Homo sapiens: one gene and its partners. The protein of the gene in region 7 purifies or fractionates together with the protein of the main gene of each other region. This does not show direct contact. Each region holds a gene or a part of one and is shown on either strand. Other genes may lie near its edges. The genes, in order: TFCP2, MAPK9, DPYSL5, COL6A2, PPP1R10, TRAPPC9 and TAFA3.

Region 1 (3,500 bases), on a different chromosome or scaffold from region 7:
CAAAAAATACAAAAATTAGCTAGGCATGGTGGCACGAGCCTATGGTCCCAGCTACTTGGGAGACTGAGGTGGGAGGATTGCCTGAATCTGGAAAGTGAAAGCTGTGATGGTGCCACTGCACCCCAGCCTGGGCAACAGAGCAAGACCCTGTCTTAAAAAATAATAGTAATAAGGCCGGGCGCGGTGGCTCACGCCTATAATCCCAGCACTTTGGGAGGCCAAGGCGGACAGATCACCTGAAGTTGGGAGTTCAAGACCAGCCTGACCAATGTGGCAAAACCCTGTCTCTACTAAAAATACAAAAATTAGCTGGGTGTGGTGGTGTATGTCTGTAATCCCAGCTACTTGGGAGGCTGAGGCAGGAGAATCGCTTGAACTTGGGAGGCAGAGGTTGCAGTGAGCCAAGATCACGCCACTGTACTCCAGCCCAGGCAACAGAGCGAGACTCTGTCTCAAAAAATAAATAAATAAATAATAATAACAATAATAAAATATTAGAAAGAAGGCAGGGTATGGTGGCTCATGCCTTTAATCCCAACACTTTGGGAAGCTGAGGTGGGAGAATCGCTTGAGCCCATGAGCTCAAGACAAGCCTGGGCACCATAGTGAAACCCCCATCTCTACAAAAAATAAAAATAAAAACAGAGATAAAAAAAAGAAAGACCTTAAGTCAATACTCTAACTTCAGACCTTAAGGAACTAGAAAAAGAAGCACAAACTGGACCCAACCAAAGGGAGGGAATAACAATGTTTAGAGCAGAGATAAGTGAAATAAAGAATAAAAATAAGGCAGGTGCAGTACCTCACACCTGTAATCCCAGCGCTTTGGGAGGCTGAGGCAGGAGGATCGCTTGAGGCCAGGAGTTCAAGGCCTGGGCAAGACAGTGAGACCCCATCTCTATGAAATTAAAAAAAAAATTAGCTGGGTTTGGTGATGCATGCCTGTAGTCTCAGTTACTCAGGAGGCTGAGGTAGGAGGATCACTTGAGCCCAGCAGTTTGAGGTTGCAGTGCATATGATCACACCACTGCATCATTCCAGCCTGGGTAACAGAGCACGGCCCCATTTCTCAAAAACAAACAAACAACAACAACCACAAAAACCAAGAAGAATAAAAATAGTAGAATCAACGAAACCAAAAATTTGTTATTTAAAAAGATCAACAGAATTTACAAACTCTTGGCCGGGTATGGTGGCTCACGCCTGTAATCCCAGCACTTTGGGAGGCCGAGGCGGGCAGATCACAAGGTCAGGAGTTCAAGACCAGCCTGGTCAACATGGTAAAACCCTGTCTCTACTAAAAATACAAAAATTAGCTGGGCACGGTGGCAGGCACCTGTAATCCCAGCTACTGGAGAGGCTGAGGCAGGAGAATTGCTTGAACCTGGGAGGTGGAGGTTGCAGTGAGCTGAGATCATGCCACTGCACTCCAGCCTGGGTGACACAGCAAGACTCCATCTCGAAAAAAAAAAAAAAAAAGTAATTAACAAACTCTTGTCAGACTGACTGGGAGAAAAAGAAAGAAGATGAAATGAAAATAAATAAAATCAGAAATGAAGCTGGGGATATTACTACTAATTTTATATAAATGAAAGGATTATAAGAGAATACTGTGAATGACTAAACCAGCATATTAGATAATTTAGATAAAAGAGACAAATTTTTAGAAACATTAAAGTACCAAAACTGACTCAGAAAAAATTAAAAGTCTCAACAAACCTATAATAAGAGATTGAATTGATAAACAAAAACCTCCCAACAAAGAAAAGTCCAGTATCACATGGCTGCATTGGCAAATTCTACCAAATATTCAAAGAATTAACACCAATCCTACTCGAACTCCTTCAAAAAACAGAAAAGAATGGAACACTTCCTAACGTTCTATGAGGCCAACATCACCCTGACACCAAAGCCAGAAAAAGATACGATAAAATTCAGGCTGGGCATGGTGGCTCACACCTGTAATCCTAGCACTTTGGGAGGCTGAGGCAGGAAGATCCCTTGAGTCCAGGAGTTCAAGACCAGCCTGGGCAACATAGGGAGACTTGGTCTCTTAAAAAAAAGACATGATAAGAAAACTATAAACCAATATCCCATATGAATATAGAAATAAAAATCCTCAAGAAAATAACAGCAAACTGCAAACTGGATCCAACAGTACATTAAAAAGATTATATACCATGACCAACATTTATCCCAGGAATGCAAGAGTGGTTCAACATAAGGAAATCAATCAATGTGATACACCACATTATCATCTCAACAGACACAGAAAAGATATTTGAAAAAATTCAATACCCTTTTAAGATTAAAAAAAAAAACACTCAGCAAAAGTTCAAAGACATTATGCTAAGTGAATAAGTCAGTCACAAAAGGACAAATATATGATCCCACGTATATGAGGTTTTTAGAGTAGTCAAATTCATAGACACAGAAAGTAGAATGGTGGTTGCCAGAGGCTGGAGTGGGGGGAGATGGGAAGTTAGTGTTTAATAGGTACAGCATTTCACTTTGGGATGAAAAAGTTCTGAAGACAGATCATGGTGACAGTTGTACAACAACGTAAATGTACTTAATTACACTGATCTGGACATTTTTAAAGGGTTAAAATGATAGAATTTTATGTTATGTGTATTTTACCACAATAAACACACACATACACACATATTCAGCAAACTAGGAATAGAAGGAAACTTATTTAACACTAAAACGGCATTTATGAAAAACTCTGAGTAGGGCATGGTGGCACATGCCTGTAGTCCCAGCTACTCAGGAGGCTGAGGCAGGACTGCTTGATCCCCGGGAGTTCGAAGCTGCAGTGAGCCATGAACATGCCACTGCACTCCAGCCTGGGCAACAGAGTGAGACCCCATCTCAAACAAACAAACAAAGAAGTTGGCCAGGCATGGTGGCTCACATCTGTAATCCCAGCACTTTGGGAGGCCAAGGCAGGTGGATCACCTGAGGTCAGGAGTTTGAGACCAGCCTGGCTAACATGGTGAAACCCCGTCTCTACTAAAAATACAAAAATTAGCTGGGTGTGGTGGTATGTGCCTGTAATCCCAGCTACTTGGGAGGCTGAGGCAGGAGAATCGCTTGAAGCTGGGAGGCAGTTGCAGTGAGCTGAGACCATGCCATTGCACTCCAGCCTGGGCAACAAGATCGAAAACTCCATCTCAAAAAATAATAATAATAATAAATAATAAATAAATAAAAGTTAACATCTGTGAACAGCCTGGGCAACATAGCATGACCCTGCCTCAAAAGAAAAAAAAAGGAAAGAAAAAAAAGATGACATCTCTGACTGTGGGTCACTATATTAACAGATGCTTAAAGTTGTTTTTCAGGAATTAGGGGACAGCTCTTACCCAGTTGAGACCACCAATCCCTCAACTGGACCTGCATGAGTGCCCAAAAAGTGACCTTTTCATGTCAGAGGGACAAAAACTCCACACTTAGATCATGTTAACACTGCCATTTTCTGCACATGGCCTATGAAG
Region 2 (3,500 bases), on a different chromosome or scaffold from region 7:
TGGATTTGCAGCAATGTCGTGCCTCAGATTTTATTATATTTGGTTTTCTTAGCACAGATGCAGCAGTAAGTAGCAACGCCACTCCTTCTCAGTCTTCATCGATCAATGACATTTCATCCATGTCCACTGAGCAGACGCTGGCCTCAGACACAGACAGCAGTCTTGATGCCTCGACGGGACCCCTTGAAGGCTGTCGATGATAGGTTAGAAATAGCAAACCTGTCAGCATTGAAGGAACTCTCACCTCCGTGGGCCTGAAATGCTTGGGAGTTGATGGAACCAAATAGAAAAACTCCATGTTCTGCATGTAAGAAACACAATGCCTTGCCCTACTCAGACCTGATAGGATTGCCTGCTTAGATGATAAAATGAGGCAGAATATGTCTGAAGAAAAAAATTGCAAGCCACACTTCTAGAGATTTTGTTCAAGATCATTTCAGGTGAGCAGTTAGAGTAGGTGAATTTGTTTCAAATTGTACTAGTGACAGTTTCTCATCATCTGTAACTGTTGAGATGTATGTGCATGTGACCACAAATGCTTGCTTGGACTTGCCCATCTAGCACTTTGGAAATCAGTATTTAAATGCCAAATAATCTTCCAGGTAGTGCTGCTTCTGAAGTTATCTCTTAATCCTCTTAAGTAATTTGGTGTCTGTCCAGAAAAAGTCGATTTATGTGTATTAATTGGCCATCATGATGTTATCATATCTTATTCCCTTTTATGCTATGATTTATTCTATCTTTTGTATTTCAGAAGACATATAATTAAATCTATTTAATAAATAAAAATATATAGCTTTTCTTAGATTTGTGATGTTTGGGGCTGAGAATTATCACGGCTAAAACCAAGACACTTATGTGGACATCTTGTTTTCTTTAAACTGTCTTGTCTGGGATGATTGTACATTCAGCTTTACTGCACGATACAATTTTAAGTTTTGCTTAGTGCTGCTTGAAATCCTAGCTACCTTATCTCTTTTCTTCTTGGTCTTCTAGACTTCTTATGAATTTAAAATGCTACCTAGAACTTCACCTTCTTTATTAGGTGCGTAACACTCCATCTTAATTAAATATGATGGCAGATAGGTTCCTGCATCCATGGCCTAACGTTGGAGTGGAATTTTACAAAATGCTCACTAGAGATCACTGCAGTCATTTCCTAAGTGCTTCCTTTGCCACAGACTGGCCTGGGTCCTTTATTTACCTTCCCTCATTCACTTTCCCTCGGCCAATACCACGTTCTTGATTTTCTTTCTTCACTGGAAGAAAGCAGATAAACTCCTCTTTGGTCTGTTTTCAGAGGCCAGGCTGATTCAGATGCCTGTTGCTATTGTTGCTCTCCATTGTTGGGAGGCATTCCTTTTCACAAGAATGTTCTGGGAAACTCTTCAGAGGACGTGAAGGAAATACCCTGAAGAGTCATGATTAACTATTGACTATTTTCTGATTTAAAACTGCTCACCTGAAATTGATACTTTTAGACTTTACGATCAGTAAATTATTCAGAATTCATGAAGATGCTGAGTATGTTAAGTGTCACTGCAGGAACGGAGCTGTGGTGATCACGTTTTGCCTGCCTGTGCCCATGTCTCTTCCCTTGAGCTTATTCTGTTGCTGATTCATATCTTGTGTTCAATTATTTTGGAAGCTTTTCAGTCGACATTCTGTAGAGTGTGTTCTGAGGAGGAACTGTGATAAGAAAGTTTATTATAAATATTATGTAAAATATATGGCTCTCTCTGCACCAGTTATATCTTATTGGTTGGTCATATCACTGGAAACTGGAACCTTTGATTAGCAAAATTAATATTGAAATAAGAAATAGTTCTTTTATATTGTGTCATTTGGACACTTTCAAGTACAAAATGGTAATAATAACTTGGATTGAGGCGGAAACACCTATTTTATGGCTATCTATCTAAACATCTTAAAATGGCCTTCTCTGTAATACACTTTCTTTTAAAAGACTTCACTAAATCTATCTTTAAAAGGAAAAACAAAAGGGAGAGGTTGAAAATGCGCGAGCTGCCCTGCACTGTGTGATGCTCCCTCCCCGGGAGACGTGGACGGGGGACGAGGCACCCGCAGACGCCCTTCTGCTCACTCGCTCCTCTGTGCATTCAGCGAGCCACTTGCCACAGATGGAGCCCGTGACGGTGTGGAGGGTTTCCTGGAAAGGCCATCTTCCACCAGGTAGAGGCGAGCGTGCCTAGGACAGGCCACAGGGCTCCACAGAAATACCTCACCCCAGCTTCAGGGTTCTCTCTCCTGAGCCTAGATTTGCCAGGGTCTTGGTGCCACGCAAATGGTTTCAAACTGATCTCTATGGATAAATGCTGATGTTGGTTAAAGAACTGAAAAATGTGCTCAACTGTTTCATCTTTTCTATTTTATTTTTGTAATTTATATTGTACACAACCCAGGAAGTAACTATTTTGGACATGTATTTTTATAAACCAGGTAATTTACTATTATCCTGGAATTTAGACTAGGTTTGTTTCATTTGTTGACTTAGTTTCCAGCCAAGAAGGAAACGACTGTCTCCCCCATGTCCAGGTCTCAGTTTCAAGGGCAGAGTCCAGAGAGCAGACAGAGTTCTGTGAGAGCAGGAGAGCAGTCTGGAAACCCTGGCTGTGCATACCGTGTCAGCCGTGGGCCTGGAGATGGGAGCAGGTGAGACGCAGAGCCCCAGTACTGAGAGGAGGAAGCCCTCTTACAGGGCCCCTTGCCCACCCCAAGTCCGTGTCTGAAACACGGAGCGGGTGCTGCTTCAACCCGCATTTAATGCTGTGTAAGTAGCGATAACCACGTACGAGTCTGTCTGGTTGATTTCTAATGTGACTCCTCTGGTATTTCCTCCTGGTAATAAATACAAGTGTGACCTTTCAGATTGCATATCTCAAAAGTAACATTGCTAATGTTTTATAATAAAATATATTATGTGTGTTTTGGTTGGTGAAAATAATACAGACTACATTTTAAAAGATAAATGTATAGCATGTCCAATTTTTGTGTGTTTTTACATGGCAATTAGATATTTCTCCATCACCATCTCTGATGACAGATTTAACATGAACACAGATAGATGATAAAGTGTCATGCTTTTGATCAATATTAGCAAGAGGTTTCACACTGAGAGGCAGAAACATTGCTGTTTGTTCTCTTATTGAAAATATTCTGCAAATTCCTAAATCTGTGTTTTCAAAACTAATGGCAGTAAGTTTTGACTTCACCAATATGCAGGTCCAATTCAGAGTATTGGTGTAATTGTTTTCTCATGAGGCGTGGCCAGGAGAATTCACCAGTCAGCCTTAGTCATGTTACTTAACGTCATTCATGGTGCTTGTGGCTTTGTGCCTGGGATGAGCCAAGTTCATCTGACGTCTGTGTTTGAAGCACTTCAGGCTGTTTAGTACTTAATACCACAGGAGTGGAAGGACACTCAGTGGCTCACTTTCTTTTCTCTGCTTAAAAGGACTAGAAGCATTCCAGAGAGATGA
Region 3 (3,500 bases), on a different chromosome or scaffold from region 7:
GGATTTTGAAGAAGACTTGCATTACAGATCTCCAAAAGCATATAATTTTGCACTATTTCTAGCACAAAATATGGCCCTGGCCTACCGTTGGCCATCTTCTCCCTCCATCTTCACACAGTCTTTCTTCCGTGTCACACATGTCTGGTGTGTCTGTCTCCTCTTCTTATAAGGACACCGATAAGACTGGATTAGGGCCCACCTATATGACCTCACTTTATCTTAATGATTACATTAAAGGCCCTAAATAGTGCCATGTTCTGAGGTTCTGGGTGTTAGAACTTCAGCAGAAGAATTTTGAAGGGAGCCAATTCAACCCATAACAACCAGCCTTTGGGGCTCACCCCTCCCATGGAGCTGTGACATTTTGACCTGTCCTCAGCGCTTTCTCTCCCGCCATTGCCTCCCCACCAGGACCATCTCAGCCAGCACGCAGGTCCAGGGAGGAGACTTCAACCTGTATGAGAACATGCGCTGCCACGGCGTGCCACTGGTCACCATCAGCCGGGGGCGCGTCGTGTATGAGAACGGCGTCTTCATGTGCGCCGAGGGCACCGGCAAGTTCTGTCCCCTGAGGTCCTTCCCAGACACTGTCTACAAGAAGCTGGTCCAGAGAGAGAAGGTGAGGTGGGAGGAGGAAGATGCAGGGGTGTTGGCGCCCCCTGCCGGGGAACATCCTCCATGACTGTTTTAAATCTCAAAGAGATGTTCACTCCAGTTTTCGACCCAATTCCATTGCACTTTCTCCAGCGTTGAGAGGGGAGTGTGCGGCAGCGCCAGGGAACGCTAGAGTCAGAAAATGCTGATTTCTGTTCCCCGTCTTTGATTACCAAGTGGCATTTTAAGTGGTCAGGCAGCAGGGCTCCTGAGTTGCTGAGGGCACAAGTGGGAAATGTGAGTGTGTGCGACCGCTGAGCTCCTCTGGATACGCAGGCTTGGGGTGGAGGAGGTGCTGGGGGCTGGAGATGCTGCTTTGGCTCGGCTCCCTCCCACTCTTGATGAAGCAAGCGGGGGGTAGAGCTGGCATTTGCAAAGCATTGTCTGAAGCACAGGAGGAGCAGGCACCTGAACACGGGAGGCCCACACTGCTGGCACACAGAGCACACGAGAGGGCTCAGAGCTTTCAGAGAAACCAAGGACCCTTCTCTCCCAGAGGCCAATGAGTGAAGAAATCCACTGCCAGGTCTGCCGTGGGAGCGCAGGCTTGGGCTGCCTGAATGAAGAAAGCGTGACTTTCGTGATCGCAGGGCTAAATCCAAAAGCAAACTCAGGGTCTCTTACTCATCACACTCAGCTAATGTTTACTTTTTTGTGGAGATGGACGGGGTTTAACCGTGTTGCTCGGGTTGCTTTCAAATTCCTGGGCTCAAGTGATCCGTCTGCCTCGGCCTCCTAAAGTGCTGGGATTACAGGCGTGAGCCACTGTGCGCGGCCCAATAACACTTTTTAATACGATGTAGGACCATAAATGACCTCTGCAGTAATAACTGCTCGTACTTCTGTGTTGCCTCTCATGTGCCAGAGCAGTTGGAACAGCTTTACACATATTAATTCGTCTGCTCTCCTGCAACTCTCTGATGTAGGTATAGTATTATGGGCACAGAAAAGTAACTTGCACAAAGCCACACAGTTTACAAGTGACAGAGTTGGGATTGGAACCTAGGCAGTCTGGTTGTAGAATATAGACTCCTAACTCTACTGCCTTTGTGAGTACAGAATTAGCTAGTATTGCTACTGGGGGCCTCTCATCTCCAGATGGGGCTGTGTTTAGCCTCTGTTCCCTCAGAGTTGTCAGACCAGTAAAGGGTGTGGCTTCGTGGGAGCCTAAGGTGGGGAATAACGTTGCGCTGTGTGGGAGGGCGCTCTCTAAAATTGACTTCCGGTTGGGCATGGTGGCTCACGCCTGTAATCCCGGAACTTTGGGAGGCCGAGGCGGGTGGATCACGAGGTCAGGAGTTCAAGACCAGCTGGCCAAGATGGTGAAACCCCGTCTCTATTAAAAATACAAAAATTAGTCAGGCACGGTGGCAGGCGCCTGTAATCCTAGCTACTTGGGAGGCTGAGGCAGGAGAATCACTTTGCGGGGGCGGAGGTTGCAGTGAGCCAAGATCGCACCACTGCACTCCAGCATGGGCGACAGAGTGAGACTCTGTCTCAAAAAAAAGAAAAGAAAAATTTGGTTAAAGTTGACTTCCTCAGATGTCTACCTGCTACCTCGGTGAGGCTTCCATCAGTGTTGAGGGGGAGCCAGTATCTCTCCCATACACATGCATGCACACACACATGTGCACTCACATACATGCACGCATGCACACATGTACACATATGCACATGCTCTTTAGGAGGTATGAGAAAACTCCAGCCCCTGGACTCAATGTTTAAGAAGCCTTGGTCACTTGCAGTGATTTGGGTCTTGGGCAGAGTGGCAGTGTCTAATGTCCCACCGGCCCCCAGGGAGGCCATGGTTGTATCACTCAGCTCTGATGGTGTTGTCCTGTTCTTCTGCTCTTCTTCCATCCTTCCCTAGACTTTAAAGGTTAGAGGAGTGGACCGCACTCCCTACCTGGGGGATGTCGCTGTTGTCGTGCACCCTGGGAAAAAAGAGATGGGAACCCCACTCGCAGACACTCCTACCCGGCCCGTCACCCGGCATGGGGGCATGAGGGACCTTCACGAATCCAGCTTCAGCCTCTCTGGTAAGAGTCAGGGGGCCACGGGAGGAGGATGGGGGTCTGGGAGAAGTGGCCCACCTAGGCAGTGGGACTTACGCCTGCTTTTCTTTTGTGTCCTCTCCTCCCTCCCGTTGCCTATTTCCAGGGATGAGTGCTGGTTTGGATATTAGACTCACATAGACATTAGTGGGGACAGGAGGGCTGTCCTGGTCCCTGGGCACAGACGCTCTAATAGGCCATGGCCCACCTGGGGCTCTGCTCGGGGTTTCTAAGTTCAGATATTTTTGTCCCTTGAAACATCTTGAGGGCTGTGCACACAGTGGGTGCTCCAGAGATGCCCTGAGCTCAGAAGAGTCAGCCCTGTCTGTGGTTCACGGGACTGCACCGACCAGCCCTTCGCCCACCCCAGCCCACTCCTCACCAGCCTCTCTACTCCTTCTGCTACCCCCTCTCCTCCTCTGACCTTCCCACACCTTTCCCCGCCTTTGCCTCACCTTCACCTTCTTTTTTTTTTTTTTACCAGGAATTGTATTGTATATATTTTATTAACTTTAAGTAAAATATTTTCTCTCGACTTCTGATGCCCAGTTTTTTCTCTTATCTTTCTGTCCTTTGGGTCCTGGCCCCAGTCCTTCTGTGGAATCTCTGGGTTCCTTGGGGGGTGCGATCCCAGTTCTTAAAGCCACGATCTGCAGTTTCCCGCCCCCCCGTCCCCCCCCGCACCCATCACCATGCGAGCCACGGGCTCATAAATGATGATCCTCAGTGGAGAACAAGCAGAGGCTGTAAGATGCCTCGGGCCTCCAGGTGGCTTAGGTGGGAACTGTCACC
Region 4 (3,500 bases), on a different chromosome or scaffold from region 7:
GACTATTTGAAGAAATAATGGCTGAAAACTTCTAAAATATGATGAATGACATGAATATAACCATCCAAGAAGCCCAAAAAGCTCCAAGCAGGATGAACTCAAAGAGACCCACACTGAAACATTCTAATCAAATTGTCAAAACCCAAAGACAAAGATTTTGAAAACAGCAAGAAAGAATGATTCATCACATGTAAGGAATCCTCAATAAAACTATTAGCAGATTTCTGATCAGAAACTTTGAAGGCCACAAGGCAGTGGGCCAATATATCCAAAGTGCTAAAAGAATAAAAACTGTCTACCAAGAAGCCCACATCCAGCAAAACTGTCCTTTAAAAGTAAGGGAGAAATTAACACATTCTTAGATCAACAAAAGCTGAGAATGTTCCTTACCACTAGACCTGCCCTATAGGAAACGCCAAAGGGAGTCCTGCGGGTTGAAATAAAGGGTGATAGACAGTAATTCAAGTGAAGAAGTAAAGATCTCAGCCAGGCATAGTGGCTCATGCTTGTAACCCCATCACTTTGGGAGGCCGAGGCAGGAGGATAACTTGAGCCCAGGAGTTCAAGACCAGCCTGAGCAATATAGGGAGACCCTATCTCTATAAAATAAAAATATTTTTAAAAATCGACCAAGCATGGTGGTGCACACCTGTGGTCCCAACTACTGGGGAGGCTGAGGTGGGAGAATCATTTGGGCCTGGGAGGTTGAAGCTGCAGTGAGCTGTCACCACACCACTGCACTCCAGCCTGGGCAACAGAGCAAGACCTTATCTCAAAATAAATAAATAAATAAATATCTCAGTAAAGGTAAATATATAGACAATTATAAAAGCTAATATTGCTGTAACAATGGTGTGTAATGCTGCTTTTTGTTTTCTACATAATTTAAGAGACTGATTTAAAAATAACATTATGCTTTTGGACACATAATATATAAAGGTGTAATTTTGTGACATCAATAACTAAAAGGGTTGGGGACAGAGCCATTCAGGGAGCAGAGTTTTGTTTATGCCATTGAAGCTAAACTGGTATAAATTCAGTGTAGACTGTTATAATTTTAGGATGTTAAAATGCAATCCCCATGGTAACAACAAAGAAAATAACTAAAGAATAAATACAAAAGGGAATGAGGAAGGGATTTAAATGTTTCACCATCAAAAAAATTAATTAAACACAAGACAGTGATACTGGAAATTAAGGACAAAAAAATCCATAAGGTATACAGAAAAAAAATGCAAAATGAAAGAAGTCCCTCTTTATCAGTAATTACTTTAGATGTAAATGGATTAAACTCTCCAAACTCTCTCTGTTAAAAGACAGAGATTGGCAGAATGGATTTAGAAAGCCAAATCCAACTATATGCTCTCTACAAGAGATGCACTTTAGATCCAGAAACATAAATAGATTGACAGTGAAAGGATGGGCAATGACATGCCACACAAATAGTAACCAAAAGAGAGCAAGAGTGGCTATACTAATACCAGACAAGATAGGCTTTAAATCAAAAAAGGTTACAAGAGGGAAAGAAGGACATCATATATTAATAAAAGGCTCAATACAGCAAGATATAATAATTATAAATATTTATGCACCTAATAACAGTCCATCAAAATATTTATATCTTACACTGGGAAGATTGTTGCTGGCTCTCAGTCTGCTTCCAGTCTGCTCATATTGCTTTTGTTGTAATGATGGTCATATGTGGGAGCTCAGTGTCAAGAGGGCAGACTTGAGCCCACACTGCCAGGCTTCAGACCTCAGCTATTAGCTGAGTGCCCTGGGCAAGTTACCTCACTGGGCCTTGGTTTCCTCATCTGTTGGAGTGGGGATGGTAATAGTACCTATGTCCAAGGCCATAAGTCCAATTGTGAATGTTGAATGAAGGGATATAGGACAGTATCTGGTACACAATTATTATAGATTTTTCATTGACATTTTATACATTCTGTTTTCTTCAAAGACTTTTTGGTTCCTGTTTTGCACTCAGATACTTCCTTTTCCTGGAGTTTATTTGGGAGCACCATGTGAGGTAGTACCTTTATTTCTAGTCACAGGGTGAGCCCTCATCCCAGCCTGCTTCCACCACTCTGAAAGGCCACCATGTCATAGCCTAAGTTCTCGTGTGTTGTTATGCCCATGGTTGTGTGGAGTGTTGGCCTGTTCCAGCACCAAAACCAAAACTGTAATTTTATCGTTTCATTTGATAGCACAAGCTTTCTCATCACTCTATTTTTTATTTTGCTCAACTCTTCTTGCTTTTTCTACCAAGTAAAACTTGGATTCATTTTGCAAACTCCTATCTACAAAAATGCAAAAAATTTTCTTGGAAACTTTAATTAAAATTGCATTCTATTATAGATTCAGTTAGGAATAACTGATATTTTTAAATCAGTTTAAGATAGTGGGATGATTTCTTATCCAAAAACAAGGTTTGTCTTTCCAATATATTTCTCAAAAATTTTTTTGAGTTTTTTTCATAAGTCCTGCACATTTTTATTCAGTTGATTCCTTGGGTTTATGTTGTTTTTCTTACTAGTGTAAATAGCATTTTTCTGCAACATTTTCTAACTGGTTGTTAGAAAATGTTTCTTCTAACTGATAGAAGAAAATCAATAACTTTTTGTATGTTGAGGACTAAGCTCTGATTTTTTTATCTTGCCTATATTCTTATCTAAGGGGTCTGGGGAGTCATGCCCTACAAACCATAAATTCTCATCAGATGGTTTTATCTAACCCTATATGCTGTGACTTACTTTCCATCTGACTCTGGCATGACACTACACGACCAAGAAGAAAATAAAAATATTTTACCCCAAAACATGTTTCTTTGCCACATTTTGAAATGGCCCTGCAAAGCTGTCCTTTACTGGGGAAAATTTGCATCTGTAAGGAATCTCTGTTAACATAGCTAGCTCTTTTTCTTCCAGGCCCTCCCAATTCTGAAGAGATTAACCGAGAGTCTAGCAGCTTTTAAAGGTCTCAGTAGGAAACACTTGTCATTGATTGTCTCTAAGGGCAGCCACTATGAGACTTCAGAAGAACCTTGGTCTCCACAGTCTTTTATCTTAACCTGAGCATTTCCTTTCTATGATCCCAGGTCTTTAGACAAACTCAACCAATTGTCAACCAGAAAATGTTTAAATTTACCTGTAGCCTGGAAGCCATCTCTCCCCGCTTTGAATTTTCCTGCCTTTCTGGATTAAACCAATGTATTTCTTAAATGTATTTGATTGATGTCTCATGCCTCCCTAAAATGAATAAAACCGAGCTGCACCCCAGCCACCTTGGGTACATGTTCTCAGGACCTCCTAAGGGCTGTGTCATGGGTCATGGCCACTCATATTTGGCTCAGAATAAATCTCTTAAAATATTTTACAGAGTTTGACTCTTTTCATCAATGATATATTTTTCTAAGTGGCTCACTAAATTTTCTCTCCCTAATCTCCCCTCCTTTCTCTTTCTTTCTCTCTTTCTCTCTGTCTATATATATATATATTTTT
Region 5 (3,500 bases), on a different chromosome or scaffold from region 7:
TGGATTTTGGTTACATGTATAAGTTCTTTAATGGTGATTTCTGAGATTTTGGTACACTCATCACCCAAGCAGTGTACACTGCACCCAACGTGTAGTCTTTTACTAATGTAGATTTTAACCACATATTCTGAAATATTAGGTCTTTTTACTCCAGAGTGGTGTGATGACATCAGAGTTGAAAGTTATCCAAGTAGAACACAACTCTAATTCATTGTTCCATTTTTTAAGGGTTTGGTTTTTAAGCATATCTCATGTTCTTCTTAAAACTTTGGGTTACTTTCTCCGTTACATAAATTTTCACAATATTTTCTCAAACCTCCCATTTTCTGTTCCTGGAAGAATGTTACTTTACATTATTTAGGCATTTCCCCTTTCTGTCACCTGCAGAGCTCCGGAAATTGGCCTCAGTCCTTGTCAGCGACTGGATGGCTGTCATCCGCTCTCAGAGCAGTACCCAGCCTGCTGGTAAGCTCCTTAGTCCTTTATCCTTTGTATTTATTTCTTTCCTATTGGGATGTGGCCTTTAGGTGCTCCCAGTCTGCTTCACCTCTGACAGTGTTCATCTAAATAAAATCCTTTTCTGCTTTGTTTTTTCACAACAGAGAAAGATAAGAAGAAACGTAAAGATGAAGGAAAAAGTCGAACTACCCTTCCTGAGCGACCTTTGACAGAGGTGAAGGCTGAGACCCGGGCTGAGGAGGCCCCAGAGAAGAAGAGGGAGAAGCCCAAGTCTCTTCGCACCACAGCACCCAGTCATGCCAAGTTCCGTTCCACTGGTAAGACTGGCGGCTGGCCTCTGGAGGGTTCATGGGCATGTGCACACCCAGAGCCTTATGGGGGAATCATTTGATGTGTGGTATGTTAATCGTAAGGAAGAGGGAAGACTAGCAGAGGAAGCTTTGGTTACAAGGCTAGAAGAACATTTGCGGGTGAGAACGGGAGGAAAATTCGGGGGTCTGGGGTTTGAGTTCAGCTGCCCACACCGTGCTTCTTTCCCCAGGACTAGAGCTGGAGACACCATCCTTGGTGCCTGTGAAGAAGAATGCCAGCACAGTGGTGGTTTCTGACAAGTACAACCTTAAACCCATCCCCCTCAAACGTCAGAGGTATGGACCATATTCTCAGGCTCTGAATGGGGTGGATCTGTGGACACAAGGGAGCAGGAGGGGGTGAGTCGGAGATGTTGATGACAGTTCCTCTTCTGACAGCAACGTAGCTGCTCCAGGAGATGCCACTCCCCCTGCAGAGAAGAAATACAAGCCACTCAACACAACACCTAATGCCACCAAAGAGATCAAAGTGAAGATCATCCCGCCACAGCGTGAGTCTAAAGTGGGGAAGATGTACTTTGAATTAGGAGCAAACTTTTTTTTTTTTTTTTTTGGAGACAGAGTCTCACTCTGTCACCCAGGCTGGAGTGCAGTGGCACGGTCTTGGCTCACTGCAAGCTCCGCCTCCCGGGTTCACGCCATTCTCCTGCCTCAGCCTCCCGAGTAGCTGGGACTACTGGTGCCCGCCACCACGCCCGGCTAATTTTTTGTATTTTTAGTAGAGATGGGGTTTCACCATGTTAGCCAGGATGGTCTTGATTTCCTGACCTCGTGATCCACCCACCTCAGCTTCCCAAAGTGCTGGGATTACAGGCATGAGCCACCGCACCTGGCCAGGAGCAAACTCTTATGGGAATGAATGTCCCTGGGAACGAGAAGTTTTTTCCCTTCTCTTTTATTATTTCCCTCCATTTTCCTTTGATTTCTTGGTATCCCTTACTTTTTGTACCTCTGGAACTCCCGTTTCAGGGGTCACTTAGGAGTAATTTTAGAGATAAGATAGGGACGTGTGCCATTCTGTGACTGGTCAGGGGCACCTGGTAAGGTGATCTGTCATGTTCACAAGGGCTCACTTCGTCAGCTACCTGAGCTATAATTCACATCCAAAGCTATGGCTTGCCTGCCATGAGAAACCTAGAATAACAACAAGAATATCCTGTGTGAATCCTCCTGCATGTGCTTCCTGGTCCTCTTGAGCTTATCGTGTCCTAAGTTGAGGCAGGGTCTTCACTGGCTCATTTTATGCCTGGACTGTGTTTGCAGGTGTAGGATTATGAAGGAGGTCTGATGATGCCATTTGGTGCTCTTTCTTTTTGTAGCTATGGAGGGCCTGGGCTTTCTGGATGCTCTTAATTCAGCCCCTGTTCCAGGCATCAAAATTAAGAAGAAAAAAAAAGTACTGTCACCTACGGCTGCCAAGGTATGGGCTCCCAGAAGTAGGTTTCAGTGACAGAGTATAAAAGGTAAAGTAGAAGAAAGGGCACAGCAGCTAGGAGTTGTCGGGGAGGACAACAAGAGGCGTTTTGCCTTGGATATAGACTGGTGCAGGTGAGACATTGTGGAGACAGAGTCTTCCTTTATATAGGAACTGTTGGGGGACTGTGCCTGGGACCCTGGACTAATTGCCTTGCCCTTGGCTTTCCAGTCAGTTCATTAACTTCCTTTTCTTTCACAATAGCCAAGCCCCTTTGAAGGGAAAACGAGCACAGAACCAAGCACAGCCAAACCTTCTTCCCCAGAACCAGCACCACCTTCTGAGGCAATGGACGCAGACCGTCCAGGCACCCCGGTTCCCCCTGTTGAAGTCCCGGAGCTCATGGATACAGGTAATCTAGAAACTGGTTCAGTTTGGGGGGTTTTCTGAAAGGAGGGATCTGGGTCTGAAACCTCTTCTGCTTCCAGCCTCTTTGGAGCCAGGAGCTCTGGATGCCAAGCCAGTGGAGAGTCCTGGAGATCCTAACCAACTGACCCGGAAAGGCAGGAAGAGGAAAAGTGTGACATGGCCTGAGGAAGGCAAACTGAGAGAATATTTCTATTTTGAATTGGATGAAACTGAACGAGGTAAGAGGTCATTTCCTACGTAATAGGTGTGTTTAAGGGATTTTGAAAGGACTTGGTTGTGCTTACTTTCCCTCTTGCTTTTCTTCCCCTGCCGACAGTAAATGTGAATAAGATCAAGGACTTTGGTGAGGCGGCTAAGCGAGAGATACTGTCAGACCGACATGCATTTGAGACAGCGCGGCGTCTGAGCCATGATAACATGGAGGAGAAGGTGCCCTGGGTGTGCCCCCGGCCCCTGGTTCTGCCCTCACCTCTTGTCACCCCTGGAAGCAATAGTCAGGAGCGATATATCCAGGCTGAGCGGGAGAAGGGAATCCTTCAGGAGCTCTTCCTGAACAAGGAGAGGTGAGCAGAGTGGGGTTCGTGCCCTGGGATGTTGAGTGCTTGGACACTCCTGAGGGAACATGAGCTGGGGTAATTACGGGGTGGAGGTTAGAAATTACTTTCAGGGTCTGAATTAATAACTTGACTATCATTCTTTTTTCTCTCACCTGTGTTGTTCCTGATAGTCCTCATGAGCCTGATCCTGAGCCCTACGAGCCCATACCCCCTAAACTCATCCCCCTAGATGAGGTAAGTCAATGTTCTGTGATGATGGAAGTTGTGATG
Region 6 (3,500 bases), on a different chromosome or scaffold from region 7:
GCTGCTGTCCTCCAGCACTGGGGCTTCTGTTCGCTGCTGTACTGCACACTCCTGGAAAGGGACAGGCCATGTCCTACTCAAATTTGAATATTCACGGACCATAGACCTAGACAACAACTTCTAGATGAAAACATAGGATATCTTTGTGACCTCGGGCAAAGATTTTTCTCAGATGAGGACATAGAAGGCACTAACCATAGAAGAAAAAGCTGATAGATTGAGCTACATCACAGAGAAATGCTTTTGCTTATGAACACTCCCTTAGGGAAATAAATCGGCAACAGACCGGGAGGAAATATTTGCAAAACACATATAACTAAGGACTTGCATTCAGAATATATACAGAACTCGTACGACTCAGTAATAAAACAAACGATCTAATTTTAAAAACTGTCAGAAGATTTGAACAAGCGCTTCACAAAGGAAGATATACCAGTGGCCAGTGATCATATGAAAAAGGTTCAACATCATTAGTTTTCAGGGAAATGGAAGTTAAAGCCACCACAACGTCTAAAATAAAAAAGACTGATATCCTCATATGCTGGTGAGCAGGTGATATCCTCATATGCTGGTGAGCAGGTGATATCCTCATATGCTGGTGAGCAGGTGGAGCAACAGGGATTCTCACACATCGTCGGCGTCGGCATGACCTTTCACTGTAGGAAAAGTGGGGCTGGCAGAGATCCGATATGTAGGTAAATTGTGTGGGAGACACAGAGAAAGGACATTATGGAGTCCAGCATGGTTAGGAGAATTTAGGGAAAGAAGCAGCAGCTTCCCGCTGAAGGGCATGAGGACCAGCTTCTTGGAGAGGGTGGCATTGGAACCGAGTGTCCAAAGGGAGAGCCAGATGTGGCTGTGGAGGCATTGCAGGAGCAGAGAGCCTGTGTGCCCCGGCGGCGTCACCTAGTACAGCCTGCCTCATACGCTTCCACCCATGATTCTATGTCAAAGAGTATTTCATTGGACTTAGAGCAGCTATTTTGTTTATTTTTTCATTGATTTATTGTCATCCTCCCCACTGATTCTAAGCCAGGGGACTAGCCTGTCATTAGCATGGAGGCCCCCAGGGGTAGGAGTCTTAGCTTGTTTTGCTCACTGCTGTATCCTCTGCCACAAGAGTGGCTGGCACCAGAGTAGGGGTTCAGTAAATATGTGTTGACAGAATGAGAAAACAAATGAGTTAAAGTTGTTCAGTCTGGTGAGGTCATAGGTAGGCAGTGGGGCCTCGAATTTCCAGAGCAGGTTGGGGCTGAGGAGGGCCTGGCATGCCCGTGAAGGCATTTGGGCTCCATTTTACAGTCCTGAAGGGGTCTAGTGGTTTCAAGATGGGGATTGTCTTAGTCCGGTGAGGCTGCTGTCACAAAATGCCACAGACTGGGTGGCTGATAAACAATAGAAATGTATTGTGCACAGTTCTAGAGGCTAGAAGTCCATGATCCAGGTGCCAGCATGTTTGGTGTCTGGGGAGGGCCCACTTGCTTGTTCATAGACCGCCGTCTTTTCTCTGTGTTCTCACATGGTGCAACAGGTGAGCTAGCTCTTTAGGGTCTCTTCTTATAAGGGCACTAATTCCATTTGTGAGTGCTTCACCCCCTGACCCAATCACTTTTTAAAGTCCCCACCTCCTAATTCCATCACCTTGGGGGCTAGGCTTTCAACATGTGAATTTTGGGGAGGCACAAACATTCAAACCGTGGCTCGGGTGATGGGCTCTGAGCCATGTCTCAGGAACCTAAGTCTGGCAGGGGTGTGTGGACAGGTGAAGGAAGGTCGAGAGGTGGTAGGAAGACAATGCCGATTCCTCTTCCAGATGAGGGCTGACGAGGGCCCCATCGAGGCCATGGCAGTGAGCGCGGAGGAGAGGGGATGGAGGGAGGGTTTGGAGGCCCAAGTTGGAAGGGCGTTCAAGCTAAGGCTCTGTACTCACAGAAACATCAGGGAAACATTCATCGTCCAGGGCAGAGGAGGGAGAGAAGCGCTTCCTTAACAGTGCTCCTGGAGCAGCAGAGTGGGCTCTGCCTTCCTTCTTCTCTGAAGGCGCTGTGCAGTGGGCAGGGCCCAGGCCCAGAGTCAGGTCTTGTCCCTGATACTTCTTGGCTGTGTGATTTTGCACAGGTGATTAATGTGTCCCTGAGCTGTTAATGTCCTTATTTGCCAGCTCACAGGATGCTTGTATTGAGTAAATCAGGTACGTTAAGTCTGCTGCCATACAGTAGGTGCTGAAGAAACAGAAGTTGTTGGCTGGGCGTGGTGGCTCACACCTGTAATCCCAGCACTTTGGGAGACTGAGGCAGGCAGATCACCTGAGGTCAGGAGTTCGAGACCAGCCTGGTTAACATGGTGAAATCCCGTCTCTACTGAAAGTACAAAAATTAGCCAGCATGGGGGTGGGTGCTTGTAATCTCAGCTACACTGGAGGATGAGGCAGGAGAATCTCTTGAACCCGGGAGGTGGAGGTTGCAGTGAGCCAAGATCGTACCACTGCACTCCAGCCTGAGTGACAGAGTGAGACTCCGTCTCAAAAAAAAAAGAAAAGAAACAGAAGTTATGATTGCTACACTACAGGGTTGTTGGGAGGATTCAGTTGGGTCTTGGATGAAAGAAAACTTTTGTAAACCCTGAAGTCTTAAGTCTGATATCAGTGGTATTGTTAATAATTCATTACCCAGTTACATGATTCTGTGTCTTCTTGTGTTTTAAGAATTTTTGTGTTTGATGAGAGACCTTGATAAAATCCTGTTGTGTAGATGAACTCTTGTTCCTTTTCTTTTCTTTTGTGAAGGAACTTAAAGTAGAGGTCTCAGATTTGTAGCAGGTACCTTTGTAGCAGAGAATCTGGGCTTTATCAGCAGGAAGATGGGCTGCACCTGCAGCTGTGGCTGGGGAAGGTCTGAAGCCACCTGGGGCCTGCGCCATGCGCTGCTCACCAGGCTTTCCCTCTCCTTGATTCTCCTCGATTCTCCTCAGGTCTTTGTTTTATGAAGAGACATTTTTAATGTGTGCTTCTTTTTTCACTTATACGTTTCTTTCAAAAGCTTTTTACTTTCTCTCTGTGCTTCAGCTTTCTGAGGAAGAGAAAATTCAGCGCTACAGCATCCTCTCCGAGCTCTATGAGCTGATCGGCTTCCATCGCAAGTCTGCGTTCTTCAAGCGCGTGGCCGCCATGCAGTGCGTGGCCCCAAGCATCGCGGAGCCTGGGTGGAGGGCCTGCTACAAACTCCTCCTGGAAACGCTGCCCGGCTACAGTCTGTCGCTGGATCCCAAAGATTTCAGCAGAGGTACTGGAGTCCCCTTGCTGGCGCTAAGGTGTTGCTTTCTGTCTGATGGTCACATGCTGTTTCAGCCCCTGCCCTGAGTGGCAGACATCGTGGTTGGTGCTGGTGGCTCCAGAATGACTAGATCCCTGCCCTGGAGTTGGGTGCCTGCTGTAATCCGATTATAGGAAAAAGTACTGGTGCTTTGCCTTGGGGCTCGGATTCTTGAATCTTTATCAGTGG
Region 7 (2,916 bases):
AAAAAAAAAAAAAAAAAAAAAGAGCTTAAAACAGAACTACCATTCAACCCAGCCATCCTATTACTGGTATATACCCAAAGGAAAATAAATCATTTTGCCAAAAAGACACATGCACTTGTATGTTCATCAAAGCAGTATTCATAATAGCAAGGGCATATAATCAGTCTAGGTGCCAATCAACATTGAATAGGATAAAGAAAATGTGGCACTTATATACCATAGAATACTACACAGCCATAAAAAAAATAATGTTTTCTGTAACACCCTGGTTGCAGCTGAAGGCCATGATCCTAAGGGACTTAGCATGGCAACGGAAAATCAAATACCACATGTTCTCACTTCTGAGAGCTAAACATTGGGTACACATGGACATAAAGATGGGAACAGTGGACGATGGTGACTACCAGAGCAGTGAGAGAGGGAGGGGAGCAAGGGCTGAAAAACTACCTATTGGGTCCTATGCTTACTACATGGGTAATGAGATCAATGGCACTCCAAACCTCAGTGTCATGCAATATACTCATGTAACAAACCTGCACATGTAATCCCTGAATCTAAAATAAAAGTTGAAATATTAAAAAAAAAAAAAAAAAAAACATAGTCGAGAATGGGAAAAATTATAAGATAATTGAGGGAGGAATTGCTACTTCTACCTGAGCTCCAGGTACAGTAGTCACTCTGTCACTCACCTCTGCCGTGACCATCCCCCACCCCCACCCCATTCCCACTGTTGTTGACTCCCTACAGTTCATACCTACCCTCCTCTAGTCAGATTTCTCTGTCCACTGTCACAGCACCCAAGAGGATTATTATTTTCATGGTTTGCTGCCTGCTCCACAGAACAAGGGGTAATTAAATTTTTTATCAAACTCGTTAGCAGCTCCATGTGTGTCATGGCTAATCAGCCGCATTGCTCTGCCGTCACCATTGGTACAGAAGAGTGACACTGCAGGGCAAGCCAGGGTTCTGCCTTTGGCTTTCCTTCCCTCCCACCACACACAGCAAACAAGCAAACACATAAGAAAATAGAGAAGGAGGGCTGGGTGCGGTGGCTCATGCCTGTAATCCCAGCACTTTGGGAGACAGAGGTGGGTGAATCAAGAGGTCAGGAGTTCAAGACCAACCTGGTCAACATGGTGAAAACCCGTCTCTACTAAAAATACAAAAATTAGCTGGGCATAATGGCACACGCCTGTAATCCCAGCTACTTGGGAGGCTGAGGCAGGAGAATTGCTTGAACCTAGGAGGCAGAAGTTGCGGTAAGCAGAGATCATGCCACTGCACTCCAGTCTGGGCGACAGAGTGAGACTCCATCTCAAAAAAAGAAAAAAAGAAAAAAAAATAGAGAAGGAAAGGCAGCCTTTGGCTTCTGAAGAGAGCAACCATTTTCACAGAGCACACAACAAAAGGAGCTACAGCAAGAAAAAGTTTGGCTCTAAAGTAGAGCATCCTCTCTCTATCCGGAGGCAGGGATGAGGGACAGCCATTCTGAGTATATTTAAGATCAGAAGAGAATGAGACCCACTACAGAGCTTGTGACATTTGTCACCATGTTATAGGTTTGGGTTTGTGGCCTGTAAGGAAGTGCTTGCAATTTGGGTAGCTACTCTGAAGCAAACAGTGGGGAGGCTTGTCTGACGTATGTTTGCATGGGTCACCAGGCCATGCTTTCCCATTCCGGCCTGCTTTAGGGTGAGAGGATTGGCAGCAATGTCCTCTAAGTGACCTGCATATTCTGGGTAGTCTCTGGCATGCTGGAATGGAATAGGCATTCCCTTCTCTAACCTTACCCTCTCGCTTCTTCACCAGGTCACACGATAGCTCTTGGGGGTCACGGCCTGGACAAGAAAGGCTTGACTGAGCCGTGAACTGAAGAATGGTATCCAGTCATCAGCCAGGAAAGATGGGGATTCACTTACATGCCTCATGTCAAATGCAGCATCAGTCTTTCCGGGGCATTTCAGTTAAGCTGCTCAGCAGATATGGATGGATCTGCAATCACATACCTAATGTGGAGCTGGGCTTTTCTGGAGACACGAAGGTCAACACACAATTCCTGCCCTTAAGGAATGTCCAGTTGAATTGGAGAGTTGATGACAGACAATTTAGATAATTTAGGTTAAAGTACTTGATACCAGACTGCGGCTTCTGGGCCACATGCTATGGCATGATGGGGGTTTGGGAATGAGATTCCCACAGTTCTTCAGATACCCTGTGGCCACAGGGCATAGAAACAAGAGGTCACATTCAGCACCCACCACCTCCCTCTTTCGCATCAGTTCTGAATCCCCAGCAAGCTGTTAACATGTTGCAGGAAAACACTCTCCCCTTATGCCAGACCAGCAGTATCTCATTTGGATGGGATTGGATTGACTTGCGGAAGGAAAGTAAAAATAAAGCCAAATAACTTCCCAAATCTTTGGCACAGGTATGGGCCATTCATTGGGTATGGGATGGACAGGACTTTAAAATCATCTCCATCCAAGCACCTCAGGTTTTTGTTTGTTTGCTTATTTTAACAGATGAGGAAGCAGCTCCAGAGAGGTGAGGCAGTTTGCCCAAGATCTCATAGCCTGGGCTCCCAGACCTCTAAGACTGATGACTTTCCACTAGCCTGAATAATAGGATTCCAACGTAGGCCTCCCATGTTAATTTTATGTCAAGTTACTGGAACCAGCAAAGTACAGGCTGGACAGCAGCAACATTTTTCTTGGGAGATGCTAGAGCAGAGACTTTTACTAAGGTCACTGTTCTCCTGTCTGAAATAATCCAGAATATCCACACACCGGGATGTGGGACCATCTGGTCTCCACTCTACTCTCATCCTCCAAATTTCAAGCAGGCCTTATGACACCCAGAGGTCACTCAACTCAGTTACAGCTGGGGCTCAGCTGGCATCTCCATTGCCCACTCTGA

Evidence for each region.
Region 1: the proteins of TAFA3 (region 7) and TFCP2 purify together in Homo sapiens (affinity purification with mass spectrometry; 2 studies listed by BioGRID and IntAct, with this or other methods). This does not show direct contact.
Region 2: the proteins of TAFA3 (region 7) and MAPK9 purify together in Homo sapiens (affinity purification with mass spectrometry; 2 studies listed by BioGRID and IntAct, with this or other methods). This does not show direct contact.
Region 3: the proteins of TAFA3 (region 7) and DPYSL5 purify together in Homo sapiens (affinity purification with mass spectrometry; 2 studies listed by BioGRID and IntAct, with this or other methods). This does not show direct contact.
Region 4: the proteins of TAFA3 (region 7) and COL6A2 purify together in Homo sapiens (affinity purification with mass spectrometry; 2 studies listed by BioGRID and IntAct, with this or other methods). This does not show direct contact.
Region 5: the proteins of TAFA3 (region 7) and PPP1R10 purify together in Homo sapiens (affinity purification with mass spectrometry; 2 studies listed by BioGRID and IntAct, with this or other methods). This does not show direct contact.
Region 6: the proteins of TAFA3 (region 7) and TRAPPC9 purify together in Homo sapiens (affinity purification with mass spectrometry; 2 studies listed by BioGRID and IntAct, with this or other methods). This does not show direct contact.

What each region holds. Positions count from the first base shown.
Region 1 is NC_000012.12:51,163,136-51,166,635, forward strand, and holds part of TFCP2 (alpha-globin transcription factor CP2), read right to left. Parts: intron 1-3,500.
Region 2 is NC_000005.10:180,233,084-180,236,583, reverse strand, and holds the end of MAPK9 (mitogen-activated protein kinase 9), read left to right. Parts: intron 1-52; coding exon of another isoform or gene 53-57; coding exon 58-200; 3' UTR 201-3,441; downstream 3,442-3,500. UniProt on the Homo sapiens protein: Serine/threonine-protein kinase involved in various processes such as cell proliferation, differentiation, migration, transformation and programmed cell death.
Region 3 is NC_000002.12:26,942,132-26,945,631, forward strand, and holds part of DPYSL5 (dihydropyrimidinase-related protein 5), read left to right. Parts: intron 1-411; coding exon 412-619; intron 620-2,524; coding exon 2,525-2,693; intron 2,694-3,500. UniProt on the Homo sapiens protein: Involved in the negative regulation of dendrite outgrowth.
Region 4 is NC_000021.9:46,104,612-46,108,111, forward strand, and holds part of COL6A2 (collagen alpha-2(VI) chain isoform 2C2 precursor), read left to right. Parts: intron 1-3,500. UniProt on the Homo sapiens protein: Collagen VI acts as a cell-binding protein.
Region 5 is NC_000006.12:30,603,744-30,607,243, reverse strand, and holds part of PPP1R10 (serine/threonine-protein phosphatase 1 regulatory subunit 10), read left to right. Parts: intron 1-387; coding exon 388-465; intron 466-602; coding exon 603-776; intron 777-1,000; coding exon 1,001-1,106; intron 1,107-1,208; coding exon 1,209-1,321; intron 1,322-2,149; coding exon 2,150-2,250; intron 2,251-2,508; coding exon 2,509-2,656; intron 2,657-2,732; coding exon 2,733-2,891; intron 2,892-2,989; coding exon 2,990-3,236; intron 3,237-3,400; coding exon 3,401-3,464; intron 3,465-3,500.
Region 6 is NC_000008.11:140,370,745-140,374,244, reverse strand, and holds part of TRAPPC9 (trafficking protein particle complex subunit 9), read left to right. Parts: intron 1-3,064; coding exon 3,065-3,281; intron 3,282-3,500. UniProt on the Homo sapiens protein: Functions as an activator of NF-kappa-B through increased phosphorylation of the IKK complex. May function in neuronal cells differentiation. May play a role in vesicular transport from endoplasmic reticulum to Golgi.
Region 7 is NC_000001.11:112,724,820-112,727,735, forward strand, and holds the end of TAFA3 (chemokine-like protein TAFA-3 isoform 1 precursor), read left to right. Parts: intron 1-1,809; coding exon 1,810-1,821; coding exon of another isoform or gene 1,822-1,861; 3' UTR 1,862-2,416; downstream 2,417-2,916. UniProt on the Homo sapiens protein: Plays a role in the regulation of microglia polarization.